Homo sapiens: one gene and its partners. The protein of the gene in region 2 purifies or fractionates together with the protein of the main gene of each other region. This does not show direct contact. Each region holds a gene or a part of one and is shown on either strand. Other genes may lie near its edges.

Region 1 (7,733 bases), on a different chromosome or scaffold from region 2:
GTGGCACGATCTTGGCTCGCTGCAACCTCTGCCTCCTGGATTAGATTCTCCAGCCTCAGCCTCCTGAGTAGCTGGGATTACAGGCATCCTCCAACACACCCGGCTAATTTTTGTGTTTTTAGTAGAGATGGGGTTTTGCCACGTTGGCCAGGCTGGTCTTGAACTCCTGACTTCAAGTGATCCACCCGACTCTGCCTCCCAAAGTGCTGGGATTACAGGCGGGAGCCACTGCACCTGGCCTGTTGGTGAATATGTTTCTTAGATCTATAAAGTATTTTGTCTTCAGATGTTCTTGCATTTATGATAGGAGCAAGGATCTCATAAAATTCTATTTGTTAAAATTCTCCCCCTATAATTTTTATGTTGACTCTTGTGATTTTTAACTTTTAAAAATTCCATCCCAAAAAATAATGAACAACTTAATTTTTGAAGAATGTGATAATAATTTGAACTACAAGTCAAAATTTTAAGTGCAAAGAAATTGTTTAAATAAATTTTGCAGTTTGCTTCTGTTAAAGCATCTCTGTTCTACCATATGTCTTTCATGTTAAACTTTCACAGTGTTTTCTTCTCAAATGTTGGTGCTGAGCAAATTCTAAGGCTACGGAAAAGCCTCTACTATCCAGAGAACTTGGATAGTGAGTCATCTTGAGGGACCAAGTTTTGAGTAGCCAAGAAGTAAGCAATCAAAAGCCAGAAGTATTTTTAATCTGTTTTAGAAAATGAGAAAAAAATGAGTCAGCCTTCCATGTTATATAAAAATAATTGAACATGATTTAACTCTTTCTCATAGTTTGACTTTTATTTGATGAAGATCAAGATGCAGATCATTTTGTGCTTCAGTTATTTTGATGAATGAATATATGTGATATGAACATAGAAAATGTGGACTATAGGACAGACCTGGTAATTAACAGTTGCTTTCCTTAAAAAGTTTGTATTTTCCTCCTCATTTGCCTCTTTCTCACTGATAGTAATATGGGTAGACGGAATAAGGGAACGTAGGAATGGCAGACCAGGAGAGCCTGTGGTAAACATAATAAGATTAGTTTTCCTTTTTCTTTTTCTTTTTTTTTCCTTTTTTTGAGATGGAGTTTCGCTCTTGTTGCCCAGGCTAGAGTGCAATGGCACGATCTTGGCTCACCACAACCTCCACCTCCTGGGTTCAAGCGATTCTCCTGCCTCAACCTCCCAGGTAGCTGGGATTACAGGCATGTGCCACCACGCCCAGCTAATTTTGTATTTTTAGTAGAGATGGGTTTTCTCCATGTTGGTCAGGCTGGTCTCGAACTCCTGACCTCAGGTGATCCGCCTGCCTCAGCCTCCCAAAGTGCTGGGATTACAGGAGTGAGCCACCATGCCTGGCCTTTCTTTCACTTTTTATTTTTGAGACAGGATCTCTGTTGCCCAGGCTGGCGCAATCTTGGCTCACTGCAACCTCTGCCTATCAAGTTCAAACGATCCTCCCACTTCGGTCTCTCGAGCAGTTGGGACTACAGGCATCCACCACTATGTCTGGCTAATTTTTGTATTTTTATTAGAGATGGGGTTTCACCATGTTGCCCAGGCTGGTCTTGAACGCTTGAGCTCGAGCAATCCTCCAGCCTCAGCCTCCCAAAGTGCTGGGATTACAGGCATGAGCCACCACACCCGGCCACTTTTCTTTTTTTATGTGACAGGCAAATCAGCCATGTGAGCAGTTCTGAAAGAAGAATCCCAAAAATGTTTTTGAGCAATGTTAGCCTTTAAAGGACACAGTCATTTTGGTGCTACATTCTGGTGAGTTGGTGGAAAACAAACCAAATGTGGGCTAATTACTTTATAGTTATAGCTTATAGTCAGTCCTTTAAAGTGATTTAAAAATGAATAAAAGTAAGAGGGTCTAGAGACCAGTATAGTTTTATATACTCATCTGTATTTTAGATTAAATCTATAGTGGATTTTTTTTTTTTTTTTTTTTAGACTAGGTCACTCTGTCACCCAGGGTGGAGTGCAGTGTCACAATCATGGCTTACTGCAGCCTCCAACTCCTGGGCTCAGGCGATCCTCCTGCCTCAGCCTCCTGGTAGGTGAGACTACAGGCTCATGGTACCGTGCCCAGCTAATATTTTTATATTTTGTAGAGATGGGGTCTTCCTCTGTTGCCCAGGCTGATCTTGAAGTCCTGGGCTCAATCTGTCCTCCTGACTTGGCCTTCCAAACTGCTGGAATTAGAGGCATGAGCCACTACGCCCAGCAGAAATTATTATTTTTGATAAATCTTGTTTATTTTCTTTTAAGGCTTAATATAGGTCTTCTCTTCATATTACAGTTTTTCTTCCTATTTGAATTACGTTCAGATATATTTGAGATGTTCAGATAAATTTGAAAATTAAGTTTATCTTTTATATTTGCCTTTTTATTAACAGAAATGGATGATGAAGACTGTGAAAGAAGAAGAATGGAATGTTTGGATGAAATGTCCAATCTTGAAAAACAGTTTACCGATCTCAAAGATCAGTAAGTAGTGACTTTAGAAGGCCATTGTCACTGAATCTCAACCTTGTCACTTGTATACTAGCACAAGAGCAACTAGATTCAGTCTCAGCTGTTTTGTATTTTATGCGACAGACCAATTTGAAAGAGGCTTCAACTATTGTTTGTCTACTAAAGACCTCATTAACTAAACTGAGGGTTTGGAGGCAGGGTTTTTTTGTGGGCTTGAACCCAGGAGTTGGAGACCAGCCTGGGCAACATCGGAAGACCTGGTCTCCATAAAATATTTAAAAATTAGCTGGATGTGGTGGTACGTGCCTGTGGTCCCAGCTACTTGGGAGGTTAAGGCAGGTGGATCAATTGAGCCCAGGAGGTCAAGGCTGCAAGTGAGCTGTGCTCGTGCCATTGCACTGCAGCCTGGGCGACAGAGTAAGACACTGTCTTAAAAAAAAAAAAAATTAGTTCTGTCCTGCAGGATTATTGCCAAAAATAAACACTGAGTTGTATCATACTCTAAAGGTATTGGTGACAGCTGGCAAATTAGAGTATTTGTAAGTGGCCTTATAAATAGGAGTAACAGGGACCTCCTGCCCCATTTTTGAGTTCCTTGTTCATTGAGCAACTAATTTTGTTATGGCTTCTTCATTTGTAGTTGAGACAAACTTAGTATGTCAGGTCATAAAAACATTGGTTTTACCTTCATTAGTCTACTTCCTCTTTGCTCTTTTAAAAAATTAAGTAGGCTGGGCCGGGCACGGTGGCTTACGCCTGTAATCCCAGCATTTTGGGAGGCTGAGGCGGGTGGATCACGTGGTCAGGAGATCGAGACCATCCTGGCTAACACGGTGAAACCCCGTCTCTACTAAAAAATACAAAAAAAAAAAAAAAAAAAATTAGCCGGGCGCCTGTAGTCCCAGCTACTCGGGAGGCTGAGGCAGGAGAATGGCGTGAACCCAGGAGGCGGAGCTTGAAGTGAGCGAGATTGCGCCACTGCACTCCAGCCTGGGTGACGGAGCGAGACTCCGTCTCAAAAAAAAAAAAAAATTAAGTAGGCTGAATACAGTAATACTGACTCCTTTTCAGGAACGGTAGAGAGAAGCCAAGTAATTATTTATTTTGACAACTGGTAATGTCTATTCAAAATGATTTCTTTGTTTCTTTTAAACTCAGTGTTTAAATGACCTTTTCTCTTAGAATTGGTTTTATTGTTCTGTGGTTAAAACAAAAACAAACATTAATAGTGCCAAAAAGTAGTTATTTCAATTTTATTTTTTTGTATTGGGAATTGACCATTAAAGAGTGATAGATAGATACCTGTTTTGTGATTATGTGCATAAAGTCAAATAATGTAACTGAGTTCTCTGCTTGAGATCAAGGCAAAATATATTTGATAGATTATTAGAATATAAATGATATTGGGAACAAATAATGTATAGAAATGGCAAATTGTTAGCCTTTGTTGAGATTTTTAAATTAACATATTAATTTTTGCTTTGTTAAGACTTTATAAAGAACGATTAAGTCAGGTGGATGCAAAACTACAAGAAGTCATAGCTGGAAAAGCACCAGAATACTTGGAACCGCTGGCAACTTTACAGGAAAATATGCAAATTCGTACAAAGGTAGCAGGTAGGAAAGTGAAGAATCTTTTCCATATATAGAATGTAAACTCTTCAGTAGCTTTAAAAGGTGTTTATCAAGTAAGTGTTTTATGTTGATGGGATTACAAGCATATTTACATCGACCAGAATATTTTACTTTTAGTTAGCCCACAGTTACTGTATTTATTGAATACCTCTTGCTTTGCTCTGCTGCTGTAGGGGATTAAAAAAAAAAAAAGCCCTCAAGTTGTTTACAGTGTTGTTGAGAAGATAGTTCCACATTTGGTGAAACAACTGGAAACCATGATACTTTCATTAAGAGAGACTGTTACTATCACATTTTAATTCCCTATTAGATAAAGTTTAAGTGTTCTAGGCATTTTTTTAATACGTAAAAGTGATAGGATTTTTTTTAATTTATAAAAAATTTTAAAAATGTTTGATCAGGATATTATAGAACAGGAAACTTGCCTTGAACTAGATGATTTAATTTTTCCTTTTTACTTTGATAAGTTTGGTTACTCATTTGTGGCTACAAATAAACAAAGATGCACTATATTTGTATGGTTACATTTCAGTCTTATGTTTGTAAATAGGATCCAGCCTCAGTATCATGTCCTGGCACTCATAATCAAGGGATATATATATGATTTTTCATAGTCAAAAACTAAACTTTAATTAGTGGAGATGCTGGTTGTTTTTCTCTTATGTGGCACTAATTGACCCTTATGTACCTGTTAGATAATACCTAAGGCATTGTTGATAATAAGTTCTTTTTACTAAACCCTCCTTTAACCAAATTTTATTTTTGAGTGCTTAATATTATGTAGATGATATGATACTCTTCACTGCTATCTTTACATATTGACAACATACCCTTAGAAGTAAAAATATCCCTAATTTTCTTTGTTCTTTTAGATTACATGGATGATCAGGAAATATTACTTGAGTCGATTATTTACTTTTCTACTCTGGCCTCTTTTATATTTTGATTTTGCAGAGTAGTGTGTGTGAATGTGTTGCTGATGACGTAGTTCCAGATATCTGTCTCTTGCCTTTACTATACAAAGAGAGATAATTACATTTCTAGGGCCAACTATGGCATAAAGCTTAGAATACATATCCAGAGCTCTTTGCGTGCCGTTTTTGTAGTGACATATTTGCATGGCCATGTTACCTATTTTATACTATTGTCCTGTTAGGGTCTAAGTTAAACTATCTTGGGTATCCATCCTCTAGATAAAGTCCTGTCAGGAGCACTCCAGACATAATTGATTTTGTTATATCAGTTTATATACATTTACTCCTCGTGGATTCTTTGGATTGAAAATGATAGTTAAAAAAAAAGTGGTTTTGGTGGGGTATAGTATCTAGCTGTTACTCTGAGTATATGTGATTGATGACACCAGAGTTTATTATCTCCATTTCTATTTTGAGAAACTTGAGAGATTGTTTTTCACAGGAAAAGAGTTTTATTTTCATTTTGATTATTCTGTATCAAACATTTAGGAGTAATCTTTAGAAGAATAGATTAAGAACAAAAACTAGCAGTACAGTTTCTTTCTAGCTCTTATAATTTCTAATCTTTTTGGATATATATTTTAAGTGAGCCTTTTATTTTTAGTCTTTAAAGACAAAGTTAGACTCACTTTTCAATTTTTTCTTGATCCATCTTATTAAATACAGTGAGGACAGAATTCCTGTAGGGAAGTGATAATGGAACTTCTCATTGCTAACATAATCAGAGTAATTGTGTTTGGTTGCAGGAATCTATAGAGAGCTCTGCTTAGAATCTGTAAAGAACAAATATGAATGTGAAATTCAAGCTTCTCGCCAGCATTGTGAGGTACTGTCATTTTGCATAACTTTTAAGCTAATTTCATCTCTTCAAGCCTTTTCTGAGTGTAGTAGTTAAAAAAGTAAACTAAGTAAAACAATATTAAATAGTACTTTAGCTCATCATTTGTGTGTGATTAAAAAAAAAAAAGAATAGAGTTGCATTGGAAGCTGTATTGGAGATAGGACACAAAGAAAGGACCATAGAAAAAAACTGAGATAATTTTAGAAGTTTTGCAGCTGTTACTTTAAAAAGACTTTGCAACGATTATGTCACCTGGCATTACTGAAAATATTAGTATAATTAGTATAATGTGGATTAGATTTGCGAAATATACACTCAATGGTGCAGTTAGGATGTTGGGCTATAGAATTAGTTTCTGTCTGTCTAGACCTATTTCCACATCTTTGGGCAGAATTCTCTATTTATGGGAAAAAAAATAGGTATATTTTTCTGTATATTCTGTTTATTTTGCATTTAACCCATTTATGCTGAAGGTTGCAATTTTTTTGTGTGTGTGAAAAATCAGATCTTGGTGATGACCTTGAGCAGTAGGATATAAATAACTCCCACAAGCTTAACATTCCAGTAATGGAACACTAGGCATAAATGGGTTAAAATATTTATAGCATTTAAAAAACATAGTGCCCAGGCATGGTGGCTCACACCTGTAATCCCAAGAGTTTAGGAGGCTGAGGCGAGAGGATTTCTTGAGCTCAGGAAGTCAAGACCAGTCTGGGCAACATAGTGAGACCCCCCACCTCTACAAAAAATAGAAAAATTAGCTGGGCATGGTGGCAGGTGGCTGTAGTCCTAGCTACTCAGGAGGCTGAGGTGAGGGGATTGCTTGACCTTCGGAGGTTGAGGCTGCAGTGAGCTGTGATTGTGCCACTGTTCTGCAGCCTGGGTAACAGAGTGTCACCCTGTCTCAGAAATAGCAACTACAACAACAACAAACAAAAAAACCCCATAGTGCCCGTTTTGCAGATAACTTTTTATCAAATCTAGACAAGATTATAGATATACAGGTAGAAATAAGAGGACAAGTTCTATAACGATTCTTCTGTCACTTTAATGTGCCGTAAACTAAGAGTAGTTAGGTATAAAAATGATAGAGCTCATTGTTTCATTTTCATAATTACAACTGAGATTGATTATCTTTTTGGCGTTTACTAGCTGCTTGGATATTTTTTCCTAAGAAGTGCCTATTTGTATTTCTTGCCTTTGTGTTGGCTTTTAGTCTTTCCCTCATTGACTATATAAGTTCTTTATATATTCTGGCTATAAATGCTTTGCTGGTTGTATGCTTTGCAAATCTTTTTGCCCAGGTGGTACGATGTTTTCACTCTTTCTGATGACTTGCTGCAAAGAAGTTTTACATTTTAATGTAGTTGAATTTATTATCTTTTTATTTATGGGATGTGTTTTGTTTTCTTTTGTTTTGAGACAGGGTGTCACTCTGTCACCCAGGCTGGAGTGCAGTGGCATGATCATGGCTCACTGCAGCCTCTACTCCCCTGGCCTCAAGCCATCCTCCTGCCTCAGCCTCCTGAGTAGCTGGGACTACAGATGCATGCCATCACACCCAGCTAATTTTTAAAATTTTTTGTAGAGAAGCGGTTCCACTATGTTGCCCAGGCTGGTCTCAAACACCTGGGCTCAAGCAGTCCTCCTGCCTTGGCCTCCTGAAGTGTTGAGATTACAGGTGTGAGCCAAGGATGTGCTTTTTGTGTCTTCCTATTTTGAGGTAAAAAGATGTATTTTCCTTTAAAAGTTGAAATTTTGCTTTCAATATTTAGATTGCAAAACTACCTTTAATT
Region 2 (7,693 bases):
TATATCATGGAACTTGAGAGTTAAAATGAGAGAGCTCCTTGGGGAGCACAACTCATTCATATTAGAGTTGTGAACTCTGCAGAGATCAGGGGACTTAACTAGTGTTCCATGGCTAATAATCCCCACAGTATGATTCAACTCAAATCTCTGGAATCTCAATCCAGCGTTCTATTTATTGCCTCTCAAGTGCCAATATGAGATGACTAAACTGATCAGGAAACAACAAAGACAAAATTGCACCTACTGAAATAGTAAATATGTGTTACATAAATAAGAAGGCAATGCTATCATTTTAACACTCACTAAAAAAAAAACCTAAGTCTTTGAGAGGTATTGTAAGGAACTAGTATTTTGAAAGTACTGTGTGTTTTGAAAGAGAGTTTAAGTTAATTGCTCATGGAAGAAACATTTATCTGGGTGGAGATTATGCTTGACTTAGACAGGCTTTCAGCCTGAAGGTTGTAATAGATGAGTTATTCTCTTAACCTTAATCTATTTTTCATACGGTGGGATGACAGTCATCAAATGAAATCATTTTTAAGTTTCCCAGAACTGTGGAAAAACTAAGCTAATCTTACTTTCATAAGCTTTTTAAAGGGCAAAATTTTACTTTTACTTTTAAAATAATTTTTAAAAGGAGCTACTAATCTCAACAAATCCAACTATTAAAGTTTCACAGGGACAAAAAAGAACTACCACCAGTGGGTACAAATTTGTTATATGTTTTGTTCTGGCTATGGTTACACCTCTTGATTTTGGAAACATGATTATTTTGCTGAATCTTAAATTTTAAAAAAACACTGAACATAATGTCAAATTGAGCCTGATTTTCTTCCTTCCTTCCTTCCTTCCTTCCTTCCTTCCTTCCTTCCTTCCTTCCTTCCTTCCTTTCTTTCTCTTTCTTTCTGATACATGTAAAAAAAATGTTTTAGTTATCTTTAGGGCTCAGAACTCAAAGGTTTAAGAATCACTGGAGATCTGAAGAAACCAGACAGGAGCCAGCCAGCTACTATGTGTTTAGGGAGTGATGCTCACTCCAAAGCCTACTCTCGTTCTTCCGCAGCAGTGCTTCTCAAACTTTGACCAAAGCACGCGGACAGTAGGGGAGAATGGATTCTATCTGCAGGAAGAAGACAGAGTCCAGGGCTGCGAGTTTTCATTCAAAGTTCACACTAAACTTCACACTATTCTTATGTCTGTTTTAATATAAAGAAATACGCTTTGAAATGCACATTTCTTTATACTAAACCTCCAGCACCTTCTACCCCTCCTTTTATTTTTCCCTTACTTTTTCATGTAGACACTTAATGCCTCCACAAAATCATATTGTTCACTTATCTTCTTTGATTATTGTCTGCTTCCTCCCCGAGGGAGGGTTATTTTGTTCGCTGCTGCACGCCAGCACCAAGAACAAGACCTGGCACTTGTCAGGACTCAACAAATCCATGCAGAATGAACGATGAAATGTTTTAGATGAGGATGTGTTCAATCCAACTGTTCTGGAGGGGCTCCTTCTTTATCCCATGGCTCAGAGGCACATTTCCTCATTCTGAGTGGCAAGCGCTCCCAGTTTTGGAAGAAAAAAATGTGTTACACTTAGGGAATGTGGGGGAAAGAAGCAGCAATGACTCTTCCCCACTTGCTTGGCATCACAAGATACTTTTTGACTTCTGAGCCCATGTCATGCATGTAGTGTGTCATGTGCCCACATCATGAGATCTTTTCTTGATTCCTGATGAGTTAATTTGATTTTATTCCCACTAAGTGTCCTCTGATTTAATGAGGGTGGTCTTCAGTGGCCTGCACTTGCCTAGACAATGCTGCTCTCCCTGCCTGAACAGATCCTTCTCATCCCTCAAAGCCCAGCTTGGGTGAAACCTCTTTTTTGACATTAGCCTTCATTTAATGGTTTGAAAGCCAAGGCCAGGTCTTTTTTTTTTTTTTTTTTTTTTTTTTTTCCCATTCAGAGGCAGCCTTTCCAGCAATGTGGGGCCAGGGAATGGATGTCTATGAAGTCTATTGAAGTGGCCTAAGAGAAACAATAAGCTGATTTCAAAGCATATACAGCAATTTTAAAAGAATGTACAATAGTGTATCATCTTTCACTAAGTCACAAATGCCAATCACCAATTCATTTAACTCTGTATTTCCTCTAGGTTCTCAGGAAAACATTTACTTTCTTTCATCTATAGCAATTTTAGGCACAAAAAGCTACATGCTTGGCCTGACCATGGTCCTCCGATGACAAGTTGTTGGTCTTTAAAAGCACATTTTGCTAGTTACTGACATTACTGAGCTTACTTAAAAGAGAGCTACCTTGTTATTCTCTGAGAGTATCCCAAGCCACCTTGTTTACCTACCATTACAATGTTTAGTATGATAAGCCCGCATATAAACCCTAGCTTGTCCCAGGCACTCTTGTAAGCTGATTGCATTTATTCACTCATTACTCTGCAAAACAACTTTACTACTATGATCCCCATTTCACAGATGAGGAAACAGGCACAGAAAGAGGATGAGTAAAAGTAAAGCTGGTAAGTTCCAGAGTCAGGATTCGGACCTAGGTGCTCCTGAGACCATGTGCCTAACTACTAGCCAGCTTGCCTCACACCTTTGTCCTCCTCCACCTCCTCCATACCTGTCTGCCCACCCCTTGCCCCGATCTTTCCTTTTCATGGCCAGAGAAAGATCCTGCTGCCTCACTCTAAAATCATCTCCCAAATCAACGAAGCTAAATTTCTTCCAATTGGGATGAAACCACCTTAATGTTCTTTCTTAATTCTTTGCACACTCTAGCTGATACTGATTATTCACTTATTGGCTAGCCCCTGCTATTCCATGCTTTGATCAGACACACCCATCTCTTAATGTTCTGTTTTCTTCTCTCTGAATTCCTGAACAGAATATTTACAAATATAAAGTCCAACAAGAAAATGGTGTGATCTAAATGGGGTTTCGGAAACATAAATCTGGTGGTGGCATCTGAGGAGGGAAAGGGAGGGTGTGTGGGTGAGAAAATGGGTGTGTAGAACTGTTAGAAACTTCCACTTTTGAAGTCACAAAATGCTGTAAGAGCTTTGGGAATGGAAAGGAAGGGGTGGATTCAAAATGCATTTTAGAAAGAACAATGGGTTGGACTTGTGGGCAATTGCCTCTAGGGATAAGGTAGAGAAGGGAGTTAAAATGATACCGCTATTTTGGGCTCAAATGATTATAATGAGAGTTTCATCACCTGAAATAGGTACATCAGGAAGCTAATCTGATTCAGGGAGAACAAAAAGTTCATTTTAGAATCTTTGTCATCATCCCTGTTCAACAGTTGGAAGCCACCATAAGTGAGCATTTAATGAGCCCCATTCAAGTGTCTAACAGAGCATATGATGTTAAATGTCCAACAATAATTAACTGAAGGTGAATACACCTTTTATTCTGGCCCCACGGAGGTGCCTACCAGGGTATTTGATGCGTAAGATCCTCCCCAGCCCTCCTCTACAGGGATGGAATTGGGGGTATGATTTGAATGTAAGAAATACGACTTAAGGCCGGGCACGGTGGCTCACACCTGTAATCCCAGCACTTTGGGAGGCCAAGGCAGGCAAATCATCTGAGGTCAGGAGTTTGAGACCAGCCTGGCCAACATGGTGAAACCCTGTCTCTACGAAAAATACAAAATTAGCATGGCATGGTGGAGCGCGCCTTTAATCCCAGGTACTCAGGAGGCTGAGGCAGGAGAATCGCTTGAACCCAGGTGGCGGAGGTTACAGTGAGCCCAGACCATGACATTGCACTCCAGCCTTGGCAACAAGAGCGAAACTCCATCTGAAAAATAAAGAAATATATATAAATAAAAATTAAAATAAATAAAAGAAGAAATACCACTTACTACATAGCCTAACCCCACGCAATAGCAAATATATTTTCTTTATCACACCTAAAAATCGTCAGAAAATGGCAAAATTAGTCATGTTATGTGCTTGATTTCCAGATTTGGTCTTACTTCATATTAATTTCTTAAGTAACCAACTCAAACGATCTTGAACTCCCACCCATTTGTTTCTTCAAAGTCCTGAACAATGCCAGAAGAGAGTCTACAGATCAGACAGTGCAAACAGAAAGCTTCTTGGAATTCAGCCATTAAAATCAGGCACTCAAGGTAGAATAGCAGGAGTAAAAGCTGAAAGACCTACACACTCAGCACAGAGCCAAGGCAGCTCAATCGCAGGGCCTAGAGTGGTGCGTTCAAAGAGTGTGAGATTGGTAGACAATCGCTCATGAAACAGTGTTTCGAAAATCTAAGCGACTCTGATGATTCATATTAGGAATTCATCCCAAACCTCAGATTGGTACACCTTCCTTGATTTCACACAAGCTCAGGAGTAGCTGCCATGCACATCAGTGTCCATTAAAATGACTTGTAGCAAATCTCTACGTTCAAAGTCTAACTTTGACAGACAACCTTACTTCCAGCGAAGTCTACTCCCCTCCCTCCGGAGGGAAGAATGGGCTGCGGTTAAGCGTTTGCCCTGGTGTCAGGGCCAACTGCTTCGAAGCGCCAGACTTTCGGAGACTGTGGGTAAGAGAAAAAAAAAATCCAGTCCGGGTTTTGTCTGAGCGGGGGGACCGGAGGGTTGTGAGGAATGGCTCGCGAAGAGGGGGGCGGTGGTGGAAAACATACAACACAAACAGCTCGCGCCGAGGCACGGCAGCGGTAGGCCCGGAGCGCGCGGGCGCAGCCGGCCGGGAGAGGCGCGCGCGGGCTCGGCCGCCGGCCGCATGGAGCGCAGCGCGGCCCGCGGCTCCCGGGCGGCGGCGGCGGCGGCGGAGGCGGCAGCGCGCCGCTCGCTCACACCCACCCCCGCCCGCGGCCGCCGCGCCGCCCCGCCGTAGCCGCCGGCCGCCGGCGTCCCCGCCGGCCGGTCCAGCGAAGGCGGCGCCCGCGCCTCTGCAGCCAGTGGCAGCCGCGGGTCCTGGCCGGCGGCTCCTGCAGCCCCTTGCGGCCGCGAGTCCCCGGCCCTGCGGCCACCGGCGGAGGCAGAGGAGGAAGAGGAGGTGACAAACTCTCCGGCCCCGCGCCGCGGCCCGCAACCCCGCGCTCAGGCATGCAGGCGCGGCGTCTAGCCAAGCGCTCCAGCCTGGGCAGCCGCCGGGGGGGCGCCGCGCTGCAGCCTGCCGGGCCGGCGCCCGCGCCCGCCAAGGAAGCCGCCCTACCCGGGCTCCCGCCCCCTGTCCCGGGCCCGGCCCCGGCGCCCGCCCCGGAGAGCTGGAGGCCGCCGCTGCCGCCGCCGCCGCGCAGCGCCGGGACCGGCCCCCCTCGGGCCACCGGGGCCGCCGCCGCCGCCTCGTCGCCGGTGCTGCTGCTTCTAGGGGAGGAAGACGAGGACGAGGAGGGCGGGAGCAGGCGGCGGAGGGGGCTCGGGCGTGTGGAGGAGAAGCCCCGAGGGGGCGCGGAGGAGGAGGATGACGACGAGGAAGAGGAGGACGAGGAGGTGGTCGTCGAGGTGGTGGACGGCGACGAAGACGACGAGGACGGCGAGGAGCGTTTCGTGCCCCTCGGACCCGGCCACGCAGTCCCCAGGGGCCCGGCCCGGGGCGCGTTGAAGGTGCGTGTTGGGCGCGGTGGCGCGCGTGGGACCCGCCAGCCCGGGGAGGGGGACGGGCCCGGGCCCCGGGGCAAGGCGCCTGGCCGAGGACGGTCAGCGGCGCCGGGGAGAGACCCGGCCAGGAGGGGTGTGTCAGGCGGCGCGGGCGGCCGCGCGGGGCAGCGCGAGGAACTGTTGATTTGCCTGCGCCTTGGGCCCCTGCGTCTCTCCCAGGCGGCGGCTCCCGCTTTCCTCAAAGGCCGTGTCGGGTTTGTTGTTTGGTGTGGGTGCCGGGAAAGGGCGCTTCTCCCCAGTGAGGTGGGGAACTTGGGTGATGGGACCACGGAGGCGCCGGTTCGTGCCCGGTGGGGACGGGTGAGGCAGGGGAGAGTGAGATTTTATTCTCCCCCAAGGAAGGAGTGTCCCCTTCTCCTTATTTTGAGGGCTATTCAAGCTTATTGAAACCAGAAAGCGGTGTTTCTTGTCAATCTCTCAGCCCCTTCTTCCAACCAAGAACAATTGTCGATGAGTTTCCATCACAGGCGCTTGTGAGAGAACCGGTAAACCCAGTACAGCAAAATCCAAGCCCTTGGTTTCCACATGCATTTTGCTAGCAGTTTTTGGCATTGACCCTCGCCCTCCCGTGTTTCCACTCGACATCATTTAGCGTTTGAGGTTTTTTTCCCTCCTCAAAATTGCAAATGAGAAAAAAAGAGGAAACCAGGAAAAGGGGGTGGGGGGTAGCATTTAAATTGGATGTGAGTTTCTGCTGAGAATTCTAGCGAAGTCCCCTGTACACTGAAGCGCCGAGAGATTTTTCCGTTTGTGTATCTTCAGGAGATAAGGGGTTTATTATTACACAACTGACTGGTTGGGCTTTCAGGCATGCTATTGGACAAAGCAAACCACGTTGAGATTCATGCACGGTGTATGTTGCTAAGAAGTTTTGAGGGCAGCAAGTGGTAAGCAATGGAGTGAGTGATTTTTCTCAAGAGTGGTTCCTAAAATCAGCTGAATAACATTTTACCAGAGTTTTCAGAAGGTATTGGTATTTCAGGAAGAAAAAAAACTCATGAACAGCTGAGCTTAATAGTTAGAGACCACTAAAAAAAGCTTTGGGGGCTCACCAAAAAAAGCTCCTCAAAGCTTGAAGTTGCATTTCCAAAGAAATGTTGAACATCGGCAATTAGAATAGCCCCAGAGTAGATGTGGGCAGAAATTTATTTCCTAGACCACCCTGGAAGTACCAGCTCTGGGAGTGAGAAATTTTCAGCAAGTAGTTATTTGGGATGATAGTTTTTGACAGCTGCTTGTTGAAATCCAAACCGTGACCACATTCATTACCATGGTCTGTTGAAAAGCCTGCATTGTATGGCTACAAGATATAGCTGGGTTTGAAATGAAGTCACATGGTGTCAGTGACATTGAATATCAAGAGTAGTGACTCCTTAGCATTTTTGTCCAGAAATACTGAAAGTGTGTCCTGTGGTTTGAATAGTGATTGCACAATTTGTGATAGAAACAATAATAATTTATGCTCTGTGATGAAAACAAGCTTAATATAGGGAAAAAATCAAATCCGTAAAAACAGAATAATGAGTGTGATAATTCACTTGATCAGTAAAGGTTTTTCACATCTTCAAGTAAATTTCCTTTAAATTCTTTCAAAATGGGCTTCATTTTATAACACTCTCATTTGCCCACAACTTCAGAAATTTACACAGAATGTTGGAGTCATTTGAGGTTTATCTTTTAAATTACTCTTTTAAAGACACTGTATCTGAAGAGATTTTCTAATGGAATATCACTAGATAATTTTATTATAATGCATATACGAATGTTAACCTCTTACATATATTCATGCATTCATTTATTCAACAAATATTTATTGAACACCTATTATGTGCTAGCAGCTATTCTAGAACATAGCAGTGGACACCTTCCTGATGCTCACATCTAGTGAGAGGCATCATAGCAACAATCAAATACATAGATGCAGATGTACATGCATAAGCAAGAATAACACTTCAGATTGTGGTGTGTCCTGTGAAGAAAATCATGATATCTTAGAGTTTCAAAGGAAGAAGAGAAAGCTACTGTGGGTGAGATCTCTC
Region 3 (7,921 bases), on a different chromosome or scaffold from region 2:
GATGGGGTTTCATCATATTGGTCAGGCTGGTCTCGAACTCCTGGCCTCAGGTGATCTGCCCACCTCGTGGCAAAGTGCTGGGATTACAGGCATGAGCCACCACACCTGGCCTAACTTTGTACTTCAATCCTAGCCAAAGTGTTTTCTTAAAGCAAAAGAACTGCTAAAATGGAATTACATCTTGGAGTATATTTAGATATTGAGAAGAGTTATCTCCAGTTTGTAGTGACTTTTATATATCTTTTTATTTCTATTTAAATTTTTTCTACAATAATGTGTATTACTTATGTAATAAAGTAATAAAAAATGCTTTAATGCTTTAAAACTGAGTTCAGTGGAGACGCACACCATTAGGTTTTGTTTTTTTTTTTTCTTTGAGACGGAGTCTCGCTTTGTCGCCCAGGCTGGAGTGCAGTGGCATGATCTCCGCTCACTGCAACCTCCGCCTCCCGGGTTCATGCCATTCTCCTGCCTCAGCCTCCCCAGTAGCTGGGACTACAGGTGCCCGCCACTACGCCCAGCTGATTTTTTGCATTTTTAGTAGAGACGGGGTTTCACCGTGTTAGCCAGGATGGTCTTGATCTCCTGACCTCGTGATCCGCCCGCCTCGGCCTCCCAAAGTGCTGGGATTACAGGACTATTAGGTTTTTCTTTAGTTGCTTTTTGTACTAATGAATTGATTTAAAGTTTTAGGGTTTTTCACTATAATTTAAGATGCTTCACTGGACCTTCTAGAACAAATTACACTCTAACACAGCCTCCTAGATTACTAAGGATTTATTTATTTGCATCAGGTACAATTACATTTCTTACAACACGCTATCAATTGGTGACTTTTCATATGAGGATTTCTTCTTGAATTTCTCCATATTTAAAGCAGTGATTTTAAACTACTTAAATATCTTCCTCAGAAAAACATTGCTCTCTGCTTCACTGAATTAAACAGGGAATTAACTGCCTCTTACTGGTTTGGAAAAGACCTCAGTAACCAAATAAAATGCATGGGATTTGCTGGATCCTGTTAAACCAAATGTGAAAGATTTACTGAGACAATAGGAAAATTTGAATTGTGTAGTTATTAAATGATAGTAAGAAAATTTGGGGAGGCAGAATACATGGTATTACGGATATGCTTAAAAAACTGTTATCTTGGCCAGGCATGGTGGCTCACGTCTGTAATCCCAGCACTTTGGCAGGCCAAGGCGGGCGGATCTCTGGAGGTCAGGAGTTCCACACCAGCTTTAACCAACATGGTGAAACCCCCTCTCTACTAAAAATACAAAAATTAGCTGGGCATGGTGACACATACCTGTAATCTCAGCTACTTGGGAGGCTGAAGCAGGAGAATCGCTTGAACCTGGGAGGCGGAGGTTGCAAAGAGCCAAGATCGCCCCATTGCACTCCAGCCTGGGCGACAAAAGCAAGTCTCAGTCTCAAAAACAAACAAACAAAAAACAACTATTATATTTTACCTATTCATATTATTCATATTTAAAGTATTTACAGATAAAATGATAAAAATCCAGCAAGAGTGAGGGAATGTGAAGGGCTATAGATTAAATAATCTTAGCCATATGTTGCTAAATGTTGAAGCTGGGTAGACGGTATATAAGGATTTATTGTAGTATTACTTTTGCCTTTGAAAATTTCCATAAAAGTTTAAAAATATTAAAAAGTAGAAAAAAGAAAAGGATTTCATTTATTTGATCTGACTCAAACAGAAGCTGAATTTTCTCAGCAGGCATCTTTAGGAATCTTTCACCATTACTTGCCAGTTTGTTTTCAACCAGTTTGAAGTTGTTGCTCTCCCCAAGAGACAGGTACGGAGGCGTACACATTTCCTGCCAGGGACCTCTTAAAGTCAGACTTAGAAATTCAAGGTAATCCCAGACTAATTTGGGGAGATCAGTTACTTATCTTTTTTTTAGGGTTGCTTTATGGTAGATAATACACTGTAGAGCAAATAAAATGCCTTTTTGCTTTATTCACAGGATTAAATACCATAAATTAATTTCTAGTTGCTGAGAACGGGAGATTTTAAATTTTGCATTTAGAAGACAAGAAATTCAATCTGAAGAGGCCCCATATTTCCAGTTAAGTGACCACTCAGAAGGGAAGGACAGCGCTCAATAACCAAGGTCAAGAGTTGGGTTTAGGGTTTGTGGCGATTTTTTTTGGGGGTGGCAAGAATAAGCCGTAGATTAATCTCTTAAAATAAATATAGCAAGAAAAGCATGCCTAAAATAATTCATACATATACATATATTATCATATTACAGTGTTTTACAGTTTTAGATCAGTACCAGCTAAAATATTCTTTGGATTGTTTTTGCTTTTTTACCAGCCTGTTCAACAGAATTATAAAAGGTGACAATAATGCTATAAATGTCTCCTATCCCATGCTCATCCCTCCTCTCATCTTGCTCTGTTTCTGGAGTACTCTAGGTATTCTGCATCTTTGCCTTTTTCCCCTTCTAGTTTCTAAACACATTTCTTATCTACTTGCAGATCACTTATCAGACTGAATAAAATCCATAGGTACATTCGGTGTCTGACCTGTAACAAGGCACCCCACATTATTTTGCGCCTTTGATAAAGACCAGCTTATTCAAACTTGTGAGAAAACAAAAATAGCAGGGTTCAAGTAAAAACCAGTAAAATTCAGTTCTTCACAGTGGCGGTTTTTTGACAAGACCCGGCCGAAAGATTTCACGAACAGTAAAATCCCAGAATGTTCTCAGAAATACTATCCACTGTACTGTCTGGGTTGCTTAATACTGGCCCAAACCTCAGTGTCCTAGGATAATAACCCAAGACAATTTCCCAGTCCTTTGAAATAGTTGACGTCCCAAGATGTCAAATTGCCTGGAGTGCTTTATTTTGGTTTGAAATTTAAAATTTCCTCTAGATAAAGATCTAGATTTCTCTTTGCAAGTCAAAGGCTAGTTACTATTAACAGCTGTTTCAAAAGTGCTCTAAATAGGTCACCATTCAGGTGTACCAACGCTGCAAACTGGATCTAAGAAGATCCAAATTTGTCACCACTCACTCACATTTTAACTCAAAGGTAGTACTCACAATTGGCCTTGTTTACATAGGCATTCCATTAAAATTATCCATGCATTCATTCTATTTGCACCCATTTCTTTCAAAAATGTCCATCTGTAATTAAAATCAGCTCCTCTGCCTGACATCTCATTTACACTACACCGAAATTAAACCCCACTAGGAGATCACGTAGATTATGGGGCCGAGGGCCCGCCCGCTGACTAGGTTTTCACTCGCGTCTCCTCCATGCCCCAGGTCCCCTCCGATTGCAGTCCTGGGGCAGGACTGAGCAAAAAGTCCCGTAAAGCTGGCGTGTGCCCCACTCCGCCAGGAAGCCTCACCGACGTCCTGTGCTTAAATGTTCTGACACCCCCCAAAAGCAGTTGTTTTTAAAGGCTGTCTGTGGGACCAATGCGTTGTCAAACAGATGCCGTCCCGCATCCCCTCCCCCTAAATGACACAGAAGATTCCAGCGTAGGGGAAGGGCCACGAAACCCGCAGGGCACACGACGCCGGGGGCCGGAGGGAGCACCGCCTACCTCCCTGATCAAGCCCCGCGGTGCCGGGCGAGCCCGAGGGCCCGGCAGGAGGCGGGCGGCAGCCCCAGGCGAGCTCGGAGGCGGCGGGAACGCAGCCGCCGCGCATGCCGGGAGCCGCACGCCGCCCGCCGGGGCGCGCAGTCCCGCAGGCCTCGCTCCAGGTCGTCCGAAAAGGAACCGCCTGCTGCTCCTTTGCAGGCTCGCGAGGAGCCGCACTCGGACCGCCTGATGGGGAAAAAGCCGGTGTGGCCGGGCGGAGCGAGCCGAGCGGAGCTGGAGCTGCCCCTCCCAGCGGGGAGGACGGCACGAAGGACCGAGCCGCCTCCCCTCCCGGGTCCCATTCAGACGCGAGGCGCAGAGACTGGCTCCCCGGGCTTCCCCTTTAAGGGGGGCGGGGCGCGGCCTGCCGTTTGGCCGCCCCCCACACCCTCCCCCGCTAGCCCAGAGCCGGCAGACCAATCGCCCGGGCGGCGGAGCGAAGGCGGGAGAATGCGAACCCTCCGGTAGGCGGTAGGGGCGGGCCCCGGCCTTATTCGCAGGGAGCGCTGCGCAGGCGCAGAGGCGGCCGCGGGCGGAGGGGCGGGGGCAGGCTAGCGGGAGGCTCTCCGTGAGGCACGGAGGGTGACTGGGGACAGGCGGGCGGCGACGGGCTTGTCATGGGGATCCGGGCTGCGAGACGGCACTCGTAGCATCTGGGGACTCCGAGGGGGACAGGAAGTGTCAGCGCCCGGGACCCCGGCGCCGGCCCCGCCGAGGGGATCCCCACTGCTCCGGTCCTGGAGCGGGAGGGGAGAAAGGAGGGAGCCCCGGTTTCGCCCCGCCCCTGGGCTGGTGCTGCGGGGGCGGGGAGTGAGGGCTGCTCTGGGGGGAGTGGAGATCGGGGAGCGCGGCCGTGCCCTCTCGAGCGGCTGCGGGGTCCCCGCGGCGCCGGGCTGCTGAGCTGAGGGCCCGCGGCGGCCGCGGCCGGTGCATGTGCGGCTGCTGGATGCGGAGGCGGCGGCGACGGCGCGGATCGGCAGGATGTTAGGGCAGCAGCAGCAGCAACTGTACTCGTCGGCCGCGCTCCTGACCGGGGAGCGGAGCCGGCTGCTCACCTGCTACGTGCAGGACTACCTTGAGTGCGTGGAGTCGCTGCCCCACGACATGCAGAGGAACGTGTCTGTGCTGCGAGAGCTGGACAACAAATATCAAGGTAGGAGCCGCGGGGCTGCCGGCCTCGGGAGCCGGTGGCGGGGAGCCTGTCCGGGGGAGTGCCACCTTCCCTTTCTCCCGTGACAGTCTCCCCGAGCGCACCGAGGGTCTGCCGAGCGGGACTGGGAGGACTGGAGACCGGGTTGGCGGCCCTCCGTGGCCCCGCGGTGGGCGAGTACTTCTCTGGGGTCCCCAGAGTGGGGGTGGGGGCCGCTTGTCAGCCCCCGCTGCAGACCCAGCGGCTGCAGCTGCCGCTGAGGGGAATCAGCCATTTTAAGCAGCAAGCATTTGTTCAGGCGCTGGCCCGCCCCGTGCCGCAGACCCTGCGGCCCCGGCCCGGGACTGCAGCCGGGCAAGGGTCGGAGGGAGTGAGCGGCCGGGCTCCCGCTGGTCTGCGGGGCGCGCTTCCCCACCTCACTCGCCCCCACCCCGGAGTGCGGGTGCTTTGGAACGTGCGGGGGGAGGGGGCGAGAGGCCGCGGAGGCGGACTGAGGGGGCCTTCCTCCGCGCTCCTGCCCCGGCCCGGAGGAGAGCAGTCCGTTCCGCTCTCTCGCCCCGGGAAAGTTCGCGGGCGCCCCGCGTTGTAGCCCTAGCCCAGTTCTTTCGGCAAAATGGTTAAGAGGGGAGGGGTCCCCCGCGGGAGAGGAAGAGAGGGGCGTGTGTGGCGGGGAGGGCCCCCGCGCCGGGGGCGGGGCCTGCGGGCTTGACGAGGGGCGTGGGAGGGGCGCGGCGCGCGTTCCCGCGGGCCTGGAAAATGGCTGGTCGCGAGAGGGGCGGTGGCGAGCTGGCTGCTGGGGAGGGAGTCGGGGCTGTGCGGGGGCGTTGGTTCGGCCCCAGCGGAGTCCGAATCGGGGTTTGCAGCATGTTTTGCGGTGATGTTTCCAACCTCTTTCCCAGTCAATGGATCAGGACGGCGATCAGCAGCTCGGACCGTCGCGGATCCTGGCTCCGCGTAGGTTCCGGGACATGTGTCACTTCCGGGCTTCAGGAGGAAGTGGGTTGGTTGACTGGGCAACCGCCTGGCGTCCCCGAGCCCCTCCTTCTCCGACTTTAAGTGTGGAGGCGAAACCACCCTTTGCCGGCCGACCCGGGAACCCGGGACAGAATCGACCTTCCTTACAGTGTTACCACCTACTATCGGTGGTGCTACTAGGAGGGCAGTTTAAAAGGGGAAATGTGTTGCGCTTAATAACCTTGAATCGAGGAACAGACCTTGAACATAGTATGGAAACAGCCATACGAACTTTAAAGATAATTTCCTGGACCCATTCTCTGTTTTTGTAGACACGCCAGTAATCCTATACTTTAAAAGTCTCTAAGGAATCCACTTCTTGGGTGACATAAGTGTCTGATGTTTTTTAGTTTATAAATTTGTTTCTGTTTTCTGAATCCATAGGATTCATAGGACTGATCCGTGTTTGGGGAGGGGGTGGGGAGGGAATTAAAACTGATGCGCTGGGTCCAGACCATTATATAAATATTTCTTTTACAGATTACAAAGAGTTCAAGTAACTCGTCCAGTTAATTCGATGTAGAATATTTGGCTCCAGAGCCTGCTACTGTAGATGCATATCTTTGTTTTCAAACAATTTAAGTTTTAATAAAAACTGTCCAAGGGGATTTCTACAGATATGGAGCACAAACATGAATGGTAACCTAAAAATGATACGTGCTTAATAATTGTATATGGAACCTTTCTAGTTTTTCAGATAACACCAAAGTTTGTAAAGCTTGTAGTTTGTGTTGTTGTTTTAGACAGAGCCTTGCTCTGTCCCCTAGGCTGGAGTGCAGTGGCTCGATCTTAGCTCCCTGCAACCTCTGCCTCCCGGGTTCAAGCGATTCTCCTGCCTCAGCCTCCCGAGTAGCTGGGATTACAGGCAACTGCCATCACGCCGGGCTAAGTTTTGTATTTTTAGTAGAGACGGAGTTTCACCATGTTGGCCAGGATGGTCTTGAACTCCTGACCTCAGGGGACCCGCCCGCCTCGGCCTCCGAAAGTGCTGGGATTACAGGCGTGAGCCACCGCGCCCAGCAAGCTTGCAGGTTTTTACATTTCTTTGAAGGCACATGTTTCCTTTCACAAGAGTTAAGCTATTTGAAGTTGGTGAGGGATACTATAATTTGTTGACAGGGAAATCTTTCGGATCATCTATAATTGTCAGGTATTAATAGCTCTGGTAACATTAGTAATATAGTAGGCCTTACAAGATTGAGAGATTATACAAATTCTTAGCTCTATGAAGTTTGTGATTAGTGATTAAAAACTCATCTAGTTTTCACTCTGCACGTGGTTACTGAGCTCAACTTTCACAGTTTTATGTTTATGTATATTTTGGGTTCAGATTTCATGTTTTTTATATCTTCACTAGTGCTTAAGTATTTTCTGGTTTTGGATCTAATATTTCTAGCAATATTTAGTGATATAAATTATATAGGCAGTCAAATTTCTTTCTAACCTACTTGAGACACTTTCAGAACTGCTGAAAAACTTATAAAATGAGAAATAAAGAAGAAAACAATTTCACAATTGAAGTACTTATTATGGGATAGGGTTATTAGAGAACCTTTATTTTTATTCTAGTGTTCCCACTCATAATTTCTTAGATAAATAACAACCTTCAAACTAAACTTTGATACTTAATTTCAAGTGCCTTTCATATAGTTTATAGAAAGTGCTTACACTGCGAGGTCAGACATACAGATCTGGCACAGTTCAAAGTCTGGGGTTCTTATCTCTTGAGTTGCAGTTTTTTTCACAAGCAGAAGTGATGGCTTCCTCATGGGGTTGCTGTGGAGATTAACTGAGAAAATCTTTACCACATAGAAGGGGCTGAGTAAATGTTAATTTCTTGTCTTCTTTCACTATATAATACGGTATCTTACAAATTTTTTATCTCATCTATCAATGTGCTGGTATGATATATACTGTACTTAGCCTCTAACACCTGATTATTAGGTACAAAATATTTGAAAAGAGGTTTGCCTCTTTTTTTTTTAATCCTCAATTTTTTATGTGTCTGAGGGAACCAGTTTCCTTATTTTTCCTGTAGGGAAATGAGGTTCTTAAGAAATCTGCTTAGATGCCGAGCTAAGCAAATGGAATAGACATGAACTTTGTTCGAAAATATGCTATGCAGGTGTAA
Region 4 (8,576 bases), on a different chromosome or scaffold from region 2:
CTACCCACACTCAAGGCAAAGGAATGATCCCTTTGCCTTGGTTCCTACATAAGGGTAGGACCACTGGGAAGAGATCACGCGGGACCATCCTAGAGTCTCCTGCCACACCTGGCATAGGTGCTGCTGGGGTGGGGACAGTGGTATAGAATGTGATACCAGGAAGAGAGAGATTCTTGAGTTTGCCCAGGGTAATAAACAGATGGAAGTTGTAAAAACGATGGATACAGGCAAGCTCAAAAGCAACACATCCTTTATGTGTATGGCTCATTTAATCTACACAACAAGCTGGAGATAAATAAGGTTATGCTCATGTTACACAAGTGACCTGGAAGAAACTAGGCTTTCCTTGACTGGGAGGTTGAGTCAAGGGGAGTATTTGGACAGAGGGCAACTGCAGAGAGTCAGTATCGTTAGACTGCTCACGCAGTGACTAAGTGAGAACCGTCTGGGTCCGATGGTAAAGAGGCCCACCAAAGTGTAATTACCTGGCTGACTGGGCATACTGCCTATGAGTTAGCCCTGCTCCACAAGGAGCAGTACTATTCAATAAAAAGTTGCAGGCTACTACCACCAGTTTGCCCTGGAATTCTTAAAAAAAAATTTCTTTAAGAGAAAAAAATGCAACAAAGTGTTGGATCACCCAGTGGGTTCTTCCTGTCCACTGTACAGACAAAATCAATCCACTGAGACCGTGGCATTGCAGCAGAGAAAGTGTTTAATTGACAGGAGGTGGGCAACAGGGAAGAATTAGAGTTATCACTCAAACCAGTCTCCCTGAAGGCTCAGAGCTTAGGGTTTTTATGAACAATTTGGTAAGCAGGGGGATAGGGAATGAGTGCTACTGATTGGTTGGGGATGAAACCATAGGGGTGTGGAAGACATTCCTCGTGTGCTGAGTCTGCCTCTAGGTAGGGCCACAGGACCAGTAGAGCCATGAGTCACGAGTTCAGATCGGATCAGTATGAAAGATATCTCAAAAAAAAATCTTTACAACAGTGATGTTATCTATAGGAGCAACTGGGGAAGTCATAAATCTGAGACCTCTGGCCACATGACTCCTGAGCAGTAAAGGATTATAGAAACTGACTACTTTTTAGCAGAGTTCAGGCCCCTCTCATAATCCTATTCTTGTGGTCTTTCGTTGGTTTACAAAGGTGGTTTTGGTCCCCAAGCAAGGAGGGGGTTAGTTTTAGAAAGGGACTATTATCATCCTTGCTTTCAAGTTAAACTATAAATTGTGAAACATAGCTGAGTCTATACCCAGGAATAACCAAAGACAGCGTGGAGGTCAGAAGTAGGATGGAGTCAACTATGTTAGATATCTCTCACTGTCACGATTTTGCAAAAGTGGTTTCAATCACATCACCAAGTCTCAGGGACCATTCGCTGACATCTGACTGACTTCCACAGAACACTCACGTGGAGAATCTGCTTTTCTCTAGAAAATCACCGAGCAGATATGATGCCTATTGTATATCTGCTTAATCTATTCAAAAGATCATGGGTGGACAACACTTTTTTTTAATTTTTTTATTTTTTGAGACTTGCTTTGTCGCCCAGGCTGCAGTGTAGTGGTGCAACCTTGGTTCACTGCAACCTCCACCTCCCAAGTTCAAATGATTCTCCTGCCTCAACCTCCCATGTAGCTGGGATTAATTTTTGTACTTTTTGTACTTTTAGTAGAGATGGAGTTTCACCATGTTGGCTAGGCTGGTCTCGAACTCCTGACCTCAAGTGATCTGTCCGCCTTAGCCTCCCAAAGTGCTGGGATTACAGGTGTGAGCCACCGCGCCTGGCCAATTTTCAAGAACCTCAAATACTAGTAAGCTCCTGAAACTGGCATAGGGCTTGAATACTTGAGGAGTGTAGAAGGTTCAGTCTGGCTGGGGCACAAGGTGTGTTTTCTGCACACCAAGTTCAGTTGATGGGAATTCTAAACCCTAGTGATAAAAGATGGGTGAAGCACCTGTTTTCCTTTAAGTGTCCACTATGTGCAGGACCAGAGACATGGATGAATAAAGCCATAGCTACTGTCCCAAGTAACTCAGGAAAACTCCAATTTCAATCATATAGTAACGCCGATGTGTTTGTGATTATATTTAGCAAACATTTATTGAATGCTTCCTGGATCTAAAACCCTGTTGACAGGAGATATAAAGACAAATAATTTCTCTGTTTGCCTACTCCAGGAGGAATATGGGCAGACACAGATCAGTGCTGTAAGAGAGGTACTGAGGAAGTTCTATGGAAATATTCTAGAGGGTGGGGAAAAGAGAGGAATTGGAGGAAGGCTTCTTGCCGAAGAGAAACAGTTTTATTTCCGGTTAGGCATTATAGAATTGGCAGAACTCTTCTAGATGATTGCTGAGCATCCTAGCCTATTAGAAGGCACTTCAGGCCAGAGCAAAATGCTGGAAGCCAAACTGCGCAGATAACTAGTAGAAACTGTTGTTGGCAGAGTATCCAGTGTCTGGAGAGGCAGGAGAGACTAAATTATTAAGGCCTTTGGATAATGGGCATAGGGATTTGGAATATATTCCGAAGATATGGAAACATCGTGGATGGGAAGGATAGATCCAGATTAGTGATTTAGAAAAAGAATTCTGGAGGACATAGTGGGTGTAGGAAGAGATTTCAGTGGGGGCAGCAGCATTGCTGCAATTCAGATAAGAAATAATGGCAGCTTGAGCCACAGCTATGGAAACAATAGAAAAGGAGGCAGAGGTGCATATCAATGTAATATGGCGGCTGTGGGAGATGGAAGAGTGTGGAACATATATGAAGCTGAAGACAGAAAGGATGGTGATGCCAGTAAGTAAACCCAGGTATCAAGGGGAGTACACAGGGGAGGCAAACCAATAAAGGTGTTCAATACATTAACTTTGAGGGGCTTGTTAAGACTTCTGTGTGGATTGGCCCATCAGGCGGAAATATAGGTATACAACTCGGAGAGGTCACCTATGCATAGGTAACATTTTCAAAGATATTTGAGGCTGGGTGTAGTGGCTCATGCCTATAATGCCAGCACATTGGGAGGCTGAGGTGGGCAGATCGCTTAAGCCCAGGAGTTCAAGACCAGCCTGGGCATATGGTGGAACCCTGTCTCTATTCAAAAAAAAAAAAATATATATATACACACACACACACACACACACACACACACGTATATATACATATATATACATATATACATATATATACATACAACTCCATCTCAAAAATATATATTATATATATAAAATATATGTATTCATATATAAATATATATTTTTGAGACAGAGTTTCGCTCTTGTTGCCCAGGCTGGAGTGCAATGGCTTGATCTGGGCTCACAGCAACTTCTGCCTCCCGGGTTCAAGCAATTTTCCTGCCTTAGCCTCCTGAGTAGCTGGGATTACAGGAATTTGCCACCATTCCCGGCTAATTTTGTATCTTTAGTAGAGATGGGGTCTTTCCCATGTTGGTCAGGCTGGTCTCGAACTCCTGACCTCAGGTGATTCGCCTGCCTCGGCCTCCCAAAGTGCTGGGATTACAGGCATGAGCCACGTGCCTGGCATATATATATGTTTAGTGGGGTGTGGTGGCATGCGCCTGCAGTCCTGGCTACTCAGGAGGCTGAGGCAATAAGTTAGTTGAGACAAGGAAGTCGAGGCTGCAATGAGCTGTGATCACGCCACTGGACTTCAGCTTGGGCTGAACTGAGAACCTGTCTCAAAAAAACAAAAAACAAAAAGGATGACATTTGAAACTGTGGAAATACATTAAACCATTTAGGAAGGCAGTATAGCATTAGCGTGTTGGAGCCCTGAAGAATGCTGTATTTATGAGAAAGAGGAGGTATAATGGAGCTTGACATAGGAGTAGAAGCAGGAGACAGCCTGGTTCTAGAGGCCAAGGGAAGACATGAGGAGGAATTACTACTGGTCAGTAAGCTAAACAAGATGAGATCTAAGTGAGGACCGATGGGTTTGAAGTTGAGTAGGTGTTGGCAACTTTTGGGGAGCAGTCTGAGAAGAGTGGCAACTCCAAAAGGGATAAGGACTGCCTAGGCAGAGAGGAGGCTGAAGTCTATCACAGGAGTCACTCTTTAGAAGTTTGAGAATGAAGGCATGAAGGTGGAAAAGGAAAGTGGCTTGAAGAGGAGGAGTATCTGAGACTCATCCCTGGGCTATAGCCAGGAGCTACTCTCTTCTAACCAAGCAGTTGTCTTACACAGCTGTGCATGATAGGAAGAGGGGGGTTTGAGCCCCATTTATTTCCTAACTAATCACAAAACTCCAGGCCTAAATTACCATCTGGTAAGGGAAGAGGGAGACTTAATCTCTTATCAGACACAAATGTGGCCTCAAAAGATATGGCTAAGTCTTCTACAGGTGCATAAACTCCAACCCTGAACCCCAAGCAAAATGACAAAATAAAACTGCCCCCTTCAGCTCCTTTATAATCCGGAAAGCGCGCGCAGGTGCGCCCCGGCCGCCCAGAGCCCTGCGCCCTGCCGGCCTGCTTTCACAGAGCCGCGCCCGCGCTGCGCCTGGCGGCTCCCGCCGCGCGTAGGCTGTGCCGACCGCGGTTCCCGGTGGGGACACCGAGTCCCACTCGCGGCATAGGGAGGCGGGCACCGTCACGACACTGGCCCGGCCCGCGGATCCCTTGGCCGCCGCAGTTGGCCTCCATTACCCTTTCCCGCGCCGCGCCTCCCCGCGGGGAAAATGAAACCCAGTGCCCTCAGGTTAAGGCATAGGGTGGGATCCACTGTCTTCTCACTTAGCCAAGAGAAAAGGCAGAACCGACTTCAGACAGCAAAGGGGTGTGTTGCCCTGGCCGGGTCGCCTGCGGCCCCGCCCCGGCGCTCTCCACCTCCTTCGCGGCCCGCCCTCCTGACTCCGGCGACTACATTTCCCACAGGACGCCGCGGCTCAGAGGGGCGGGCCCGTCCGCTCTCCCGCTCACGACCACCGGCGACTGGCTGACTCGGCAGGGGGCGGGGCCTGCGCCAGCCAATAGACGGGAGGCTCGTTACGGCGGCGGAAGCAGCGGCGCTGGAGTGAGGGGTGGGGGGCAGAGTGCTAGCTCCCCGGCGGTGGCTGCGGGTCCGGAGCCTGGGGACGTCGGCCCCACAGACGGAGAGCGCGCGGGAGCGAGCTCAAGGCGGCGCGGCGGCCACTGGGCGCAGCACCCAGGTAATGGCGGGACGGGCGCCCGGGAGGGAAGGGGAGGAGACGAGGGGGCGGGGCGGCTGAGCCGGGCTGCAGCGTCCGTCCCGTTGCGCGTCCCCGGGGAAGGGCAGAGGATCCTCGTCTCCTGCGGCTCGGACCGCGGCTCTTTCGCGAGCTGGTCACGGCGGTTGGGCCGGCGACAGGGGCTGGGTGTCCTGTGGCGAGGAAGGGAGAGGCACCGGGAGGGGTGGGCTGACCCGGGCGTGGGGGCGTGGCGGACGTGGGCCTTGGCGGGGAAGCAGAGCGGCCGGGGGAGCGCGGGCGGGCGGGCGGGCGGGCGGCCGGCCCAGGGAGTTTGGCTCCTGGAGCAGTTTAAAGTGACTCTCCACATCCGGGCCCTGCGCCCGCCGCTTTCAGACCCTGGCTGAGGCGGGGCCTCCCCGCTCCCCGCCCCCTTCGCCGGGGGCGCCTGTCTTCCTCTGCCATTGGCTCAGCCTCGAGGGGTTTGGGCTGCCCCGGCCAGGCTCGCGCCTGATTGGCTGGCAGTCGGCGGGAGGGTGGGGCGGGCTCTGAACGTGCAGGTCGCTGTGGATTGGTCCTGGGCCTCCACTGACGCGTCGGGCGTGGGGCCAATGGGCGGGCGGGGGAGGCAGGGGCAGGTTCGGGGGAAGAGGACTGCGAGCACAGCGGCGGCCGGGTGGCGGGGGTGAGTGGGGCCAGCGGGGCTGGACAGCAGCGGGCCCCGGGCGCCGCCGCCGCGATCCCTCCCCGCGCCCGCCGAGCACATCGCCGCCGCCGAGATGGGCCCTCCGCGGCACCCCCAGGCCGGCGAGATAGAAGCGGGCGGTGCGGGCGGCGGGCGGCGGCTACAGGTAAAGAGGCACAGTGCTCGTCTTGTGGTCGGGTCCCCAGATCGCCCGTCCGCACCCCCACCCCGGAGACGGGGGTCTCACACTCCGAGGTGTCTGGAAACCGGCGTCCTCCGGTCTCAGCGGGGGCTTCGCGGTGGGGTGGGGTTGCGGGCGAATCGGGAGATCGCTTGGCTCCTGAGGGAAAAGTGGGGGGCGATTTTAGGGAAGATGGAGAAGGTGTAGGGTCCTCTGGCTCTGTGAGGGGATCTGTGGAAGAGAAGGAAAAGGAAATCCGTAAATGGAGGCCTTTGCCGAAAAGCATTGGAGAATTCCTTTTGCATCGGGTCTGGATGTAAGATATCGGATCTTTTCTTAGGGCTGGATATCTTCCTCCGAATGTTCCTATGACATACTAATCACAGTTCTGTTCACCTTGGTGTGAGATTTGAGTGTTTCAAAGAGACATGCCATTTTCCATAAAACTTTACACAGAGAAATACACATGCATTGTGGTAATACCTGTCATGTGACTCTTGTACAGGATTCAATGGTGATTTTTTTAGCATAGCAATCCACAAGTATTTATGGAGGGTCATAGTACCCGCCAGCTCCGTATAAACAATATTTGTAGAAAACTTAGGTAGTTTAGATAATGTCTGCATTTATATTGATCCCAAGTTATTGTTTTTAAATAAATGATGCAGCATTTGCTTTTCCAAGGGACTATCTCATAGGTACTAAAGATGCTTTAATTTCTCAGTATTGATTCAGATCTCAGAATCTAGTAATAACCATATAACTGTATGTACTACAGGTGGAAATGAGTTCTCAACAGTTTCCTCGGTTAGGAGCCCCTTCTACCGGGCTGAGCCAGGCCCCTTCTCAGATTGCAAACAGTGGTTCTGCTGGATTGATAAACCCAGCTGCTACAGGTGAGATATGTAATATTCTAATATATTTTTTCCTACTTTAAGAATATTACCAGTTTTCTAACTTAAAAATTAGCAGATTCTTCTAGGATTTTAGTAAATTCTTGTTTCTTGAATTTGAAGAAAGGGTATATTACTATTCTAATTTAAACAAGGCTTTTTTTCCTTCCTGTTTTAACCACTTCATTCACATAGAGTACACATGCAACTTATAGCAAAGCGTGCCTGTAAGAACTGTTTTTGAAATGCATTAATATATTCTTGTTTAATTAATGTCCAGGAGTATAGCATTAGTGCTGTGAGGGAGCCCAGAGGTGTTTAAGGAACAGATCTTGTCTTTTAGGGGTTTATTATCTAGGAAAAGAAGTGGAAAACAAAGGATATGCGGTTTCCCTATGGTGTCTGTGGGGGATTGTTTCCAGGACCCACCTTAGATACCAAAATCCATGATGCTCCACTTTCTGATGTAAAATGGTATAGTGTTTGCATATTACCTATACCTATCCTCCAGTATATTTTAAATCATCTCTAGATTACTTGTAATACCTCCTACAATGTAAATGGTATGTAAATAGTTGTTATACTGTATTGCTAAGGGAATAATGACAAGAGAAAAAAGTCTGTATGTGCTTAGTACAGATGCAAGCAGGGTTTTTTTCCCCCCCTGAATATTTAACATCCAAAGTTGGTTGAATTCACATCAGGGAACCCATGGATACAGAGGGCTGATTGTATACACATAGATAAAACTTGGTTTTTAGTCTTATACCCTTTGAGTGGTAGAAATTAGTGGTTCTCAGTGACAGGTGTTTGGGGAGGTGATTTTTCCTCCAGGGGAGTACTTGGCAATATCTAAAGACAGTTTGGTTGTCACAACTAAAGAGTACTATTGGCATCTGATAGGTAGAGGCCAGGGATACTGCTTAACATCCTGCAAGGTAATGGGAAGCCCCCCACAACAGAGAAGTATCCAGTCCAGTCAGCAGTGCTGAAGTTGAGGAATTCCTTCAAATACTCTTTTTCTCTATGTATTAAGTAAATATATGACATTGCAAAGTGAAATAAATGCTTTTCTATTCCTTTTTCTTCACCACTGGATTCTGGTGTTCCTTATGGTAAATGATACCACTGTCTACTCATTGCTCAAACCAGTAGCTGAGGCTTTTTTTTTTTTTTTTTTGCGCAATAGGGTCTCACTCTGTCACTCAAGCGGCAGTACAGTGGCATAATCACAGCTCACTGCAGCCTCGATCTTTTGGGCTCCCCAGCTAATTTTATTTTATTTTTTATTTTTTTAATTTTTTTGAGACAGAGTGTCACTCTGTGGCCCAGGCTGGAGTGCAGTGGTGCGATCTCAGCTCACTGCAGTCTCTGCCTCCTGGGTTTAAGTGATTCTTGTGCCTCAGCCTCTGAGTAGCTGGGATTACAGGCATGCGCTACCATGCCTGGGTAATTTTTTTTTTTTTTTTCGCATTTTTAGTAGAGACAGGGTTTCACCATGTTGGCCAGGCTGATCTCGGACTCCGGACTCCAGACTTCAAGTGATCCACCCTCCTTGGCCTCCCAAAGTGCTGGGATTACAGGCATGAGCCACCACACCCAGCCACATGTTCAGCTAATTTTAAATTTTTTTGTAAAGAGG

The links.
Region 1: the proteins of ZNF704 (region 2) and BRMS1L purify together in Homo sapiens (co-immunoprecipitation; 3 studies listed by BioGRID and IntAct, with this or other methods). This does not show direct contact.
Region 3: the proteins of ZNF704 (region 2) and ING2 purify together in Homo sapiens (co-immunoprecipitation; 3 studies listed by BioGRID and IntAct, with this or other methods). This does not show direct contact.
Region 4: the proteins of ZNF704 (region 2) and SAP130 purify together in Homo sapiens (co-immunoprecipitation; 3 studies listed by BioGRID and IntAct, with this or other methods). This does not show direct contact.

The regions. Positions count from the first base shown.
Region 1 is NC_000014.9:35,829,002-35,836,734, forward strand, and holds part of BRMS1L (breast cancer metastasis-suppressor 1-like protein), read left to right. Parts: intron 1-793; exon of another isoform or gene 794-906; intron 907-1,679; exon of another isoform or gene 1,680-1,779; intron 1,780-2,408; coding exon 2,409-2,499; intron 2,500-3,976; coding exon 3,977-4,104; intron 4,105-5,842; coding exon 5,843-5,922; intron 5,923-7,733. UniProt on the Homo sapiens protein: Involved in the histone deacetylase (HDAC1)-dependent transcriptional repression activity. When overexpressed in lung cancer cell line that lacks p53/TP53 expression, inhibits cell growth.
Region 2 is NC_000008.11:80,871,451-80,879,143, reverse strand, and holds the start of ZNF704 (zinc finger protein 704), read left to right. Parts: upstream 1-4,362; 5' UTR 4,363-4,573; intron 4,574-4,675; exon of another isoform or gene 4,676-5,099; coding exon of another isoform or gene 5,100-5,600; intron 5,601-7,693.
Region 3 is NC_000004.12:183,500,589-183,508,509, forward strand, and holds the start of ING2 (inhibitor of growth protein 2), read left to right. Parts: upstream 1-4,469; 5' UTR 4,470-4,607; coding exon 4,608-4,779; intron 4,780-5,509; exon of another isoform or gene 5,510-5,678; coding exon of another isoform or gene 5,679-5,730; intron 5,731-6,262; exon of another isoform or gene 6,263-6,422; coding exon of another isoform or gene 6,423-6,429; intron 6,430-7,921. UniProt on the Homo sapiens protein: Seems to be involved in p53/TP53 activation and p53/TP53-dependent apoptotic pathways, probably by enhancing acetylation of p53/TP53. Component of a mSin3A-like corepressor complex, which is probably involved in deacetylation of nucleosomal histones.
Region 4 is NC_000002.12:128,024,542-128,033,117, reverse strand, and holds the start of SAP130 (histone deacetylase complex subunit SAP130), read left to right. Parts: upstream 1-5,058; 5' UTR 5,059-5,178; intron 5,179-5,811; exon of another isoform or gene 5,812-5,954; coding exon of another isoform or gene 5,955-6,026; intron 6,027-6,819; coding exon of another isoform or gene 6,820-6,825; coding exon 6,826-6,937; intron 6,938-8,576. UniProt on the Homo sapiens protein: Acts as a transcriptional repressor. May function in the assembly and/or enzymatic activity of the mSin3A corepressor complex or in mediating interactions between the complex and other regulatory complexes.